Linked DNA regions of Homo sapiens: regions 1 and 2 are each reported to be linked to region 3. The links are microRNA targets in miRTarBase. Many come from high-throughput screens and were not tested one by one. Region 3 holds a microRNA gene; each other region holds the end of a gene's coding sequence.
What was found. The annotated mature microRNA hsa-miR-6764-5p reads UCCCAGGGUCUGGUCAGAGUUG and lies in region 3 at 1,274-1,295, opposite strand. An mRNA with a match to its seed (bases 2 to 7 or 8) in the 3' UTR can be bound and repressed. Matches are read on the target gene's strand: a 7mer-m8 pairs with bases 2 to 8, a 7mer-A1 pairs with bases 2 to 7 and ends in A, and an 8mer does both.

Region 1 (4,360 bases), not on the chromosome of region 3:
CATATTGAAAAATATTCATGCCCAAATTGTTAAATATCGCGATGTTTACTAATTTAAGTACAAAATTTGTTTATAGTTTCCATTCTTTTATTTTTGTTTTGTAAGAATTATTTCTTAATTTATCTTCAGAGTTTTTGGACTGGGCATAGTAGCTCACATCTGTAGTCCCAGCACTTTGGGAGGCTGAGGCGGGAGAATTGCTTGAACCCATGAGTTTGAGACCACACTGGGCAATATAGAGAGACCTCATCTCTACCAAAATTTTTTTTAAAAAATTAGCTGGGCATGGTGGTATATGCTTGTAGTCCCAACTACTGGGGAGACTGAGGTGGGAGGATCACTTGAGCCCAGGAGGTTGAGGCTGCTGTGAGCTGTGATTGCATCATCGTATTCTTAGCCTGGGTGAGGGTGAGACCTTGTCTAAAACAAGACAAAACTAAAAAGAATTTTAGAAGAGATATAGAAACAGCTGACATTGTTCTAAGAAACTACTAGCACAGTGCAAAAGAAATATGCTTTCATTCCATTTTTTTCTTCTGTATTCACTCTTTCTTTTTTGCTAGGTGGCATGCATGCAGTGGTTTCATGGAGACCATACAATGCTTGAGATGATTGAGAAAAAGCGTTGCTTGTGCAAGGAAATAAAGGCTAGACAGAAAACGGAAAAGGGCCTTTGCAAACAGGATAGCATGCCTATCTTGCCCAGCTGGAAGAAGAATGCAGGTGCCAAGAAGTACAGCCCTCCACCGTATTCTAAACAGCAAACGGTATTCTGGGATACTGCCATATGAGTGTGTGCAGGATGGTGTGAGCTCTACATTTCTTAATATGAAGAGGGAGGTCGACTCGGTCATATGATAATGAACTGTTACATATCTTTTCTGTGGGAGTGGAATGCCACGGGAAGCTGTGCCTATTCGTGGCAAGTTCAAGATAAAATGCATATGTCCTTGCAATGAAGGCACACTTATTTATCCCGGATTATTTTGAATCCAGAAGATATTAAAATGTAAATATTTTACTAGTTTATGGGTGACATCTGAAATAATACACATTATACGTATATAAATTACAGAAATATCAAGAGTTTACTATATGATATAATTTCAGTATTAACTGGTTTGTTATCTCTTTTATATGTAATCCCTTGATGCCTTTTATTATTAATTTTTGCATTTAAAATGTTTTTTTTCCCTTGCCCACATTTGGTTTCTGTACAAGAGCTCACAACTATAAATCATGTTCAATCACGTAATATATGATCTGGTGCTAGTAACGTAGAAGTTGAATATCATATTTGTTAAGAGCATCTGTGCTTTTTAAGTTTCAAGGGTTTGACAGGAAATGAATGCAAATGTGATGCTTAATTTGGACGTCCAAGTTACATTGACAACAATATTTTTGCTACATTGGCTTTATAAGAATTTCTCTTTAGCATCCTCTGGCAATGGTTAGGCTAACCATTAGTCTGACTTAGTAATAACTAAGCAATGGTTAGTCAGACTCCAGAGAAAGTTACTAGGATATATTGGACATCCCAGCAGAAAACATTTCCTTCAGAAATGACTTTAGGGACATGTGTCCTTGCATCATTGATCTGATTGGAGGAGACCAGGGTTCACTGTGACAATGGAAGGAACAAGGAATTAATAGCTCAAGAGCATGACTGCTTTCAAGAAAGTGGGACCAGTGGCATTGTAGCCACCATAATCACTATATTTAAGTAACTTTTCATGTGTATGCTTGTTTCCCCAAGAAAATGAGAAATAAACATTCAACTAGACCAGTTTACATATTTTAATACACTAAATGCCAATCTTTCTAAAAGTTTAGATCTATTAATAAAATATGTATTTCTTGTTAATTTTTTCAAACTGGTTATCACCACATTTCTGGGTCATAATCTTCTGTATGTGATCATCACACCCATTCTTACTGATTATGACACCATGACCAAAGAATTATGATCATGTTTCATTTCATTTTGTTTCAAGAAAGAGACAGGAAATGCAGGGGATGAGGGATGGGGTGGATTCAATTTTATGTAGTGGTGAAATTTAAGTTAAAAAAATCATATATATCTTTTAAGAAGAACTTGTTAGTTGAATATAAATATTGCCACGAATGAATAAAAAAGAAACTATCGCATATATTTTGTATATTTAAATTACTATTTATGCCTCCTAAAATTGATAGTATGTGGTTCTTTGTTAACAATCAATTTAGTATTATATTTCTGAGAGAAAAGATGTGTTTTTGAAGTTATTGTTATAGCAGTTTTTCTTGTAAGGGTATTGACAGCAATAGTTCAGTGCTGCTCAATAAAACCAAATATAACAGGAGTTAGAGAATCTTTGTAATCTATATTGCTACAAACCTAGTAATGCTTTATCAGTAATAGTTTCTTTCAAAAGCCTTTTCAATGTTATAACATGATTTTCTAATGTTTTATAATTAATGTGTATTTTGATGTCCAATTCAAATTCTGAAAAAATAAGGAAAAAGGTAAGTGGGAGCAGTGTATGGTTGGTGTGTCTGTGAGCGTGCGTGCATGTGTGTGTGTGTGAGTGTGTGTGTACATGAACGAATACTCAGTGGGAGAACTGTATACATAAAACGCTTACTGAAGTTGCAGGTTCTGCTTGTATAATTGAGGTGGTAGAAAACCGGGATCACAAATGCAGGAAATTAGGAAGGGATCTTAAGTAGCTTAAATAAAACCCGCCAGCATGTTTCACCAGCTATAGATTATGTTTCAAACCAAATAATCTATGAAGCACAAATCTAAGGGTGATGAAAATGTGTTTAGATAAAATCAGAATGGAAATAAAATGTGTTTATGACCCAAGTTGTTATCCTGATTTAAGTTATTATGACCACATATACTCAAGCCTATCAGTCAGACACAAGATACTAATTCTCAGCATGTCTATGATTACGTATATATTCAGGCTCAGTATGGTGATGATTAACCCTCCCTTAAAATTTATATTTAGGGAACATCTTTCTGTGGGGAGATGCAAGTGTGTTTTTCAGATGCGTATCTTTCCCATATCACTCTGATTTAGGCAGAAAGTTTATTTAATGTTGGCCATTTGTCAAGAAGGAAACAAAAGTACTAAAATGATCTGTGTTGGATTAAACCATTCCTGTTTGTTCTATCAAACTTATGCTAGGGCCAGGTTTCATGCACTCCTTTTTCAAATGCATTATTTTCTGAGGCGGTAACTTGTTTGAAAATTTGACCTTAGGCAACCATTTTCATTTATTTCCGCAAATCTCTACTTAAGTGGAAAGTGACTGAAAGATCTGGAAAAGTGGCTTCACTGAGATTTGACTCAAGAACTGTTATTCTGTGCCTATACGATTGTCCACTGTGGCAATAATCATTCCATGATCAATTTCCTTTTTGTGTAGTGTTTCTCTAAATGGAGAAAAGGAGATCATTAGTATGTAGAGAAAAATAAGCTGACTCTCTGAAAGTAATCAACTGGGATACTTCAATATATTAATTTGGTCAGAATATAGCCTACAGATAGCCAGAACACTATGCCATGATAAAGCTCATATTTCTAGCAGTGCCAAAGAACAAATCATATCATGGCCTGGTTATCAGGTTGAAAGAGCTCATACTTATGAAAAATGGTCCTTTCACAGCAAATTTCATAGAAACAGAATTTTATTGGATGTCACAAGATGCTTTTATATGTGAAACACTCCTTAGCAGAGAAGATATAAATTTCTTTAGAATTGATGAAAAGAAAATATAAAAATCTGCATTTATTTCAATCGCAGAAGCCAGCATCCTCTGAGGTATAAGAGTAGTCTATTACATAAACACCGCTCACATCTCTCCCATGTTTATGCTACTGAAGCAAGCTTGGCGCCAAATGTGATGGATTTATGTAAATGAAGGTTAATACTCACCCATGTAAAATAATTAGAAAAGTAAAACAAAACGTCCGGAGATTTAAATTTGTAGTTTTAAAGTATTATATATTCAAATACATGCCAATTGTCTGGAGACAACTAGATACAACTTTACTTTCCAAAGTAGTGACAAAATTTTCTTTGAATGCTTCTAGAGAATAAAAGAATGTTTTTATTACTACATTTTGTTGGTAGGTCTTGCCTATACATGGAATTTAGTTTGATTCTTTTGAGCAAATCTAGTGACTACGTCAATAAAACTAAAGCCATTGGGTTATTATTTTAACTAATAAAATAAGACATCAACACAATGCACGTACAAATGCAATTTTAATATCACTTCCATGTTAAGACAAGTAGAAAAGAGCTTGTAAAATAACTACACTCACATGTGAAATTAAGAAACAATTCCTACGATTTAAGCAGTAAG
Region 2 (4,360 bases), not on the chromosome of region 3:
TAATCAGAGCTGGTAATTTTTTGGGATGGTTAACTTTTTGAAGCAGAGAGTAACAACCATATTCTCCAGCCAAGTACAGAATCAGAGTGAAAACTGAGCTCAAAGCATATTAGTTGGTTCTGAGTGATATATTTACTCTTTGTTCTACACTTGGCTACACATATACACTTGGTGTATGTCCATCTTTCCTCTGTTTCTAGGTGCAGAGGTAAATGCTTCTCCTCTTTGGAATCTGGCCCATGTGAAAATGGAGCCTCAAGAAAGTGAAGAAGGCAATGTCTCTGGGCATGGTGTGCTGGGCAGTGATGTCTTCGAGGAGCCTATGTCAGGCATGAGTGAAGCTGGGATTCCTCAGAGCCCTGATGACTCAGATAGCAGCTATGGTTCCCACTCCACTGACAGCCTCATGGGGTCCTCCCCTGTTTTCAACCAGCGCTGCAAGAAGAGGATGAGGAAAATATAAAAGGAAAAGAGGGAGATGTTTTGTCCAGACCTACTAGACCCAACAGAAAAGGTTTTTGTATTAGAATCTGTTTCCTTAAAAATTGATTTGACTCCTGTTCTTAAACACAAGTGGTTTTTCCTAATTCCAGAGGAACTGGACGTCACCAAACAAGGTTGCATTTTACTTTTGCATCCAGTTTTTATAGTTTTCCACAACCAAGCCACCCTTCACAGATAAAATATGATGCTGGCATGGCAATCAGACCAAAGCACTGTCCCCAATTGTTGTCTTAACTATGACTAGACATGTTATACAGCCATTTATCTTGTACAACTGAGAAGAATCATACTTTGACCTACCTTGTAGAGATGTGAGGATTTAGATGTTTGCTAACTTCAAAACTGTGCTTGAATAGACTAATAATATATGCTCATATCAGATGTCAGTTTTCATTTAACTTGATTCATTTTTGGCTCAGGTCATTGGGAACCCATTACTAATACCTAACAGGAAATAGCTAAACACAACACACCTTATCTATTAGTCACCTTCTTAAAACTGTTTTTGCTACTTTTGAAGTGTCTTATTTATAAGATCAGAGGTCTGACACCTTTTTTGCTTAGACAGCTCTCTATCTCATCCATTTATTTTCTTCTCTAGACTTACTCCATCTCTCCTCATCCTTTTGCCTTTGTTATTTCTGCTCGGACTCACATACTTTCACCATATACATATTTTCAATTGTTTCTTTCCTTTTCTCCTTTGTGAGCAAAGCAAACAAGTACTGTCCAAGGACAGCCTTGTGCATATTTCATTTGTTGCATTTGCTTGGTCATCAGAGGACAGCAGTCCATTAAGCACACTTTGCTGCTTCTACTGTAAAGGCAGCCTTTAAAACATAGCAATATGCACCTTTCAACTTTACATCATGTCCTGAACAACATCACTGTGGTTACTCATCCATCAGACTATCTGTATATATAAGTACTGAATCAGTATTTATTAAGTAAATGATGTAGCACTGTAGTGATTAGGAATCATTAGCAAATGTGTTGCTTCATGCCTTGGTGATGGATGCCAGCATGTTAAACTGCTGAAGTTTGATTTTCTGATGCAAAATATATCTTGTAAAATTTAGACCACTCCTTTAATGCAGACCAAAATAAGGCACAGCTTTAATTCATTATTGAATGCCTTAAATGTCCCAGGTATTGAGAATAAATGAATATGATACAAATGAGGTTATAGTTTAACATATAATTTTAAATTTGCCAATTGTAACTCTTTAGCACATTTCTCTAAACCCTTTCTGTCACAGTCTTTTTTTTAATTTATTTATTTATTTATTTATTTTTGAGATGGAGTCTTGCTCTGTCACCCAGGCTGGAGTGCAATGGTGCAATTTCGACTCACTGCAACCTCTGCCTCCCAGGTTCAAGCGATTCTCCTGCCTCAGCCACCTGAGTAGCTGGGATTACACGCACATGCCACCACACCCAGCTAATTTTTGCATTTTTAGTAGAGATGAGGTTTCACCGTGTTGGCCAGGCTGGTCTCAAAACTCCTGACCTCAAGTGATCTGCCCGCCTCGGGCTCCCAAAGTGCTGGGATTACAGGCGTGAGCCACTGCACCTGGCCTCTGTTGCAGTCTTATCTTCATTTTCCTTTGTTTATAATGAAAGTGGCGATTAGGCAGTTAGTTTCCATAAAGTGGCCGTATGGGAATTTAGTTCATTCATCCAGCAAACATTGAGTACCAATTATTTGCTAGGTCCTGTGCAAGGAATACAAAAATGATTAAGACTTCTTCCTTACCCTTTTGGAGCTTGAAGCATAAGGAAGACAAGTTATTCTGTAAGGAAGATAAAGCATTCAAAAGTACTACAGAGAAAAACCAAGTATGCTTGAGTTTTGCGAATGTTCTCCTCTTAAAGAATAGCTTCAAATTTTGAGACCAGTGGTTCCCACTAAGTATAGAACATTAAAATTAATACTTTATAATAAAACACTTTTATTGCTGCAGAATGTTAAACTGCATAACAGGCACCAGATGGTCAAGACGAGGGAAATATGAGAAGGCAAATGATGTGAGGATTAGTATCTTGAGATTCACCTGGTCTGGAATTATGTCATAGGCTACTATGCATCAGAATCACATGGAGGGCTTTCTAAAACAGACTGCTCAGCCCACCCCCAGGGTTTCTGAGTTCATAGGTTATAAGAGGTAAGTTGAACAATTCCCCAGATGATGCTGATGCTCCTGGTCCACAATGTGAGAACCACTAAGTTGGAGTACTGACTCATAGAGATAAAATTCTTTGAAAGAAATGTACTGTTTTAAGATACTGTAAAATGTGGAGGCAGGGCAAACGTTTATAAGGGCTGTTATGTATGAAATGTGCCTCTGACCCAAATCCACGGACTTTGCGAAAATCACCAAGGAGACTTTGCATTAAGTTCAGAGTACAATACAAACTGGGCCTAGCTCTGTATTTAGTCAGTATGTGCACGTGGGAAACTTTAGTAAAATATCACCTCCTTATTGAGACAAGTTTGGACATCTGGCCTTAAGCCTCTGTTGAACAGGAGAAGTGAAGCTGTTTGCAATTATATAATTTTCTAATTTGAAATCATGACAAGCAGTCTTAGAACAAAGTTAAAATTAAAAAGTCTTTATCCAAGTCACCAATGAAACAGGATTCTGATTCATTAATCATGTCTTGCCCACTTTTTTCAACAAACCTGACGTCCTATAATGAGCTATACAGTGTGAGGCATATTTCATAGCAACGTTGGTTGATTGCCAAGGAGACTCTGCCACCGTTCTGGATAAGCTCATGTTTCCCTTTTCCTTGGCTGCTAATAGAAGGGCAACTTACAGTGCAGGGTCAAGAGCAAGAAGCTGGGGGAGTAGAGGCTATACATCTAGCCTAATAATAGAGATCTGAGGTGGTCACCAGGAGACTACGTTCTTTTGATTCCATTCCTCAGCAGCAAAAGTACTTGAGTTCAAATGATAAAACTTGAAGTTGTAGGCTTGGAAGAGTATCAGCTCAGTATATCCTTCCTTGCATAAATACAAGGGAAAGGCCAAGGAATAATCAGCATTAACCTGCCAGGTCCAAGGGTCTTCTATCCCTGACTTCATCTGAGTCACAAGATTTCTCTAATAAGAGAAACTTTGCTACTCTGAGGAAAATTATCCCTTATGGGAGCCCCCAGTTCAGAGGTAAGAACAGTTCTTTCACGTGGAGGTCCAAAATTCTGGACTTCTAGAAACAAGTGAAGTGTGCTAAAGTCTCCTATTTATTGTTTCTCTTCCAGTATTGTGCCATCGATTCTTGCATAAAATTCTGGAATGCTGGCTCTTCATGGCTTTCCTCTGTAACTGCAAGGAAAAAAGGGCAATTCTTTTTCAACTCTTTCATTAGACAAACTGATTAGAGCCCGTCACCCATCCATCAGAAAACAGTACATTACTTCTAAGAAACTTAAGTACTCACTTCCCTCAAAAAGGAAATGTCTCCTAGAAGCATGCTCTATCATGCTGCCCAAAATGTAGTTTCTTTATAAGTAGAAAGAATACCTCCCTCATAGTAGCTAAAATAAGGTCCCACTTGTAGGTATTTTTAACCAAGAGAAATGAAAACATACGTCTACACAAAGATCTATTTGGAAACGTTTATAGTTGCTTTACTCATAATAGCTAAAATCTACCCAAATATCAGTCCACTGGGGAATGGATAAACAAACTGTGGAACATCCACAATAATGGAATATCACTCAGCAATAAAAAAGAACATACTGATACATGCAACAACATGGAGAGACTACACTACTGAGTCAAAAAAGTCAAATGCAAAAGGCTAAATACTGTGATTCTATTTCTATGGCATTCTGGAAAAGGCAAGATCA
Region 3 (4,000 bases):
ACATGTAGGAAGTATTAAAATATCCATGCATCGCTTTCATCAATAATCACTGTAATTGAGTGCAAAATAAAGGAAACTTGAGTTGCTTTATTTAGCTTCCAATTTCTGGGAGGCTCAAGAATTATAAGTATTCTGGACAACAAAAGAAAATAAGACTGTGCTTACAGATCTTGTTCTGCCATATTCTTGCTTTAGGATTGCTATTTTATTGTTGCCCTTTCTGTTACATGGGATGTACACATCAGGTGTTAAAAGGTACAATACATTCTACAACTGAGCACCACTTTCTGTAACTGAACAGGCAAAGAAATTACACTGAACATCAGCATCTGGCAGTATTTTTTTGGAAAAAAAAAGTGACTAAAATGGGTTTAAATTGATTAACACTATTAAATCACATCTAATATTTGATACTACATGATTCAATACAGCTATACGATACAATTATACAAAATGTGTTAACATCAAAGAATACAACCAAAATTAAGATAGCAAACAAAACCTATATAACTTTTTTTTTTTTACAGGAAAATACTTTTGAAGTATGCATGTAACTGCCCATTCTTTTAAAGAAAATCTACTGCAAGCAAAGTTATCAACCTCCAGAAAAATCACACGTAGCATTACTAAGCATATCCCCAAAAAAGTGTACAATATGCACACTTGGAAAATACAAAATTAAAAAAATTGTAAGCAACAGGTGAGCTTCATATTTATAAGAATGTGAAAAGAAGTCCCATTTTTAGCACTGTTGTATAAAGAATTGTCTTTTGATGCGAAGTTCATGAATTGTCCTCCTGTTGGGACCACACTTTACAAAAACACTGTGTTTTTGAAACGAGATTACAGAGCAAGATAGAGCATCTTAGCAATGTCATCTTAGTAAAGTTTTTTTTTTTTAATTTTTACTACTTTATCAAAACATGTCCCTTAGGTGTGTAGGATTCATTTTTAAAATTCTTCCTAGAAATAATATACAAAGGAGAGGCATATTTATTCCCAATCACACTTCTGGAAGATGCTTCCCGTGGTCGAGAAGGGTCTTCTCTCTTCTTTTCACTGGTTGTTTTTGGCCTTAGCATGTGTTAAGATGTGAGATTTCAGGTTAGTTGACTGAGCAAACTTCTTATTACAACCATCGAAGGGGCACACATAGGGCCTGTCTCCGGTATGGATTCGCACATGTGTGCGCAAATTGAAGTCCAGTGAAAAGCGTTTCCCACAGCCTTCGAACGTGCACTGTCAAGGAAAGACCAGAGATCAACCCACTCAGCAACTCTGACCAGACCCTGGGAGTCAGGAGCTCACTGCTTTGCTAGAGAACAGCCTATTTATTTTACCAAACACTTTTCATTCCTGCCCTGGGTGAACTTTGTGGATATAGTCTAGAATCAGCAGGCAGGTTGGACAACCCCGAAAACCCAAGGAGAGCCCTCACGAACTGTTTAAAACACTTGGCAAAATGGCAAGTCTTCCTAAATGCAGGCTAGAGTCCTAGTGCTGCTGTAAACATTTCCAACAGTAAAATACAAATGATTAAGGGTTCTGGTGTCAGTTGTCAAAAAAGAACCACGTTAGATTTACTAGCTGCACTGCTAGTTCTTTCACTTATTTATGGGCTAAAGTATTACCTATACTTACACTCTAGAAACTTTATCAGTTAGTAATTATACTATTAACTACCAAAAATAAATTACTTCAATCCTGTAATGAATGAAGTAGAAATTGAGTTTTAGGTATGCTCTTCAATCCTGTTCTCCTCCTGCCATAAAGTGTACTCCATCAACACCAATACATTGCGTACCCAGTACCACAGAGTATAGACAAGGATGTCCAGAGCCCCGGCAACCCTTCTAAGCGACTCCCCAGGAGAAGTTTTGTTTCTCACCAAGGAGTAATAAGACCCTGAGTCTCTGGGCTGGCGCCTCCTGCCTCATCACCACACCACCTACACTTGCAGTGTTCAGACAGGCAAGGCAGTGTGGGGAAGAGAGGGAACTGGCTCTACCTGAAAGGGCTTCTCTCCAGTATGAACCAGTTGGTGTCGTTTTAGTTTTGAACTCTCAACAAAAGCTTTGCCACATTCTGCACAGACGTGGACTCTGGGACCGTGGGTGTGCAGATGTTTTCTCATGGCCGAGTTATCCCTGAACATCTTTGTGCAGCCCTTAAAACAGAGAAAGCAGCTTAGAAGTTCACATTGCAAACTGTTAGAAAGGATTCAACCATTTAACAGCCTTTACTGACATATTAAAACAAAACCACCTCCCCAACCCCCCATTTTAATTTTACTTAGTATTACGGTAGAACATTAATATCATTTAAGACAAAAAGCAGACAGCTGAAAAAGTCATCATTCAATGCAAACCCTAGTTTTACAGATGAGGAAACTGAGGCTTAGAGATGTCTTTAAGTAGACTTGCCCAAGGTCACACTACTAGTAGTAGCCAAACTGGGAATAGAACCCAACACCCTGGCTTCCAGCTCTACCACAGCCACCTCACCCGACTATGTCCCCCAAAATGAAGTAACAGAAGCACTGCTAAGCAAATGGAGTTAAAATGACGGTAGTCCACCACTACCTTTGGTGGCCCCATATTCTGTGCTGCAACAATGGACTGTCATTCTCCATCGCCTACTGTTCCCTCTTCTCTCTTTGCCTCTTTCCCCTTCTTGACAGAGAAAGAAGCAAGAGGGTCTCCAAGGAATGGCAACTACAGAAGAAATTTATTTTGTGAGACACTAGGAAAAGGAAGAAGCAGGCAAATTGATACCAGTGCAGGGCGGGAAAGGCAGATGGATGTGTGGCGCTCGAGAAGCATGTCCTCAACAATTTCTTCTGCAGTTGTTGCCCAGTAATGGAGTGAATGGGGAAATGATAAGACAGCATGACAGAAGGACAGCACAAGTCACTAGACAGCTCACAGGCAGAAGGGAGAGGGAAGCCCCAGTTTTTCCGCCTTTACCCCTAGGTTGAATTTCCATTTAGAAAATGGAAATTTAAAAAATTTAACTGGTACACAATGTATACATGCATTGAAACATCACACGGTACCCCATAAATATGTACAAGTATTATGTGTCCATTATAAAGAAAACTTCAGAGAAGCTAAAGGGATGGCATAGGCACTTCCAGCCTAACTGTTTTCAAATGCTTGTTATTTCGGCCCTAATGGAGATACGTTTACATTTCAAATCGCCACATCAAGAACGCTGACAAAGAACAGGAAGGACTTGCTAGTGCACAGTCATTACAGGGAAGAGACCGTGAAACTAAATGTAGCCTGCTCCGATTGTTCATTTTTAACATTCTTTATTCCACTCAATCTCTCCTACTTTGTTCTCTGTACCTATGTGATACTTGATTTTTCTGTTAGTCTCATATCCAATTAAGTTTGAAAATAGCCCCCAACAAATATCTCAAAAGTACTTTTCAGGTTATCCTTTTATTTTAAAGACTAACTACATTTGAAAACAATTAAGTGCCTCTCTAATCACACACAATTATTAAGTCTTTATTTGGCTTATTTTAGCAACATCCAAAATAATTTTCAAATTTCAGTTACAAGCCTACATTCCCATAAAGGTCAATAGGTGAGACACAACCCAGGATCTTAAGACGGACTTGTTAATATAATCCAAAAAGAAATGAAACGCTAACAGTAGAGTCAACACACAGTAATCAAGCAACGGCTCCCTGCAGTCATCCCATTTAACAGTATTTAAAAAGTTGCCTTTACTAAATAACAAAACTTCATCTCTTGGATTTAGAAACCGAAGATTCTAATTCCTTGCTTCATTTAAATTATCACAAGCAGAAACAAAAGTGCAAATTTCTTATAACTCTCTAAAACTTCATCAACAGTTTAATGAACACTCTCCCTCTAGCATTACTTACTTTATGAGGGCAAGCTATTGTTCTTGGAGCATCATCTTCTTTAATTTTTCTTGGCTTCATTCTTATCAAAAGAAAAAGAGAGACAGACAGATTTGTAGGAGT

Region 1: miRTarBase lists NYAP2 as a target of hsa-miR-6764-5p. The part of its 3' UTR that is shown has no 7-base or 8-base seed match.
Region 2: the mRNA of GPN1 is a reported target of hsa-miR-6764-5p. Seed matches in the 3' UTR shown: 7mer-m8 at 2,638-2,644.

What each region holds. Positions count from the first base shown.
Region 1 is chr2:225,697,754-225,702,113 of GRCh38, forward strand. It overlaps NYAP2 (neuronal tyrosine-phosphorylated phosphoinositide-3-kinase adaptor 2), which reads left to right. Exons shown (of 8, transcript NM_001371273.1): 8 at 564-4,360. The coding sequence ends at 791. The region is part of intron 5 of LOC105373914 (a long non-coding RNA gene); the gene reads right to left. Among named protein-coding and RNA genes, the nearest start is that of NYAP2, 300 kb to the left of the region's middle.
Region 2 is chr2:27,649,588-27,653,947 of GRCh38, reverse strand. It overlaps GPN1 (GPN-loop GTPase 1), which reads right to left. Exons shown (of 14, transcript NM_007266.4): 14 at 2,437-3,833. The coding sequence ends at 3,748. It overlaps SUPT7L (SPT7 like, STAGA complex subunit gamma), which reads left to right. Exons shown (of 6, transcript NM_014860.3): 6 at 201-3,139. The coding sequence ends at 463. Among named protein-coding and RNA genes, the nearest start is that of SUPT7L, 12 kb to the left of the region's middle. RefSeq lists an enhancer at 142-1,341.
Region 3 is chr14:100,274,657-100,278,656 of GRCh38, reverse strand. It overlaps MIR6764 (microRNA 6764), which reads right to left and starts at 1,300; the gene lies at 1,240-1,300. It overlaps YY1 (YY1 transcription factor), which reads right to left. Exons shown (of 5, transcript NM_003403.5): 3 at 3,899-3,959; 4 at 2,009-2,167; 5 at 1-1,239. The coding sequence ends at 1,057. It also overlaps a transcript of SLC25A29 not described here. RefSeq lists an enhancer at 1-324.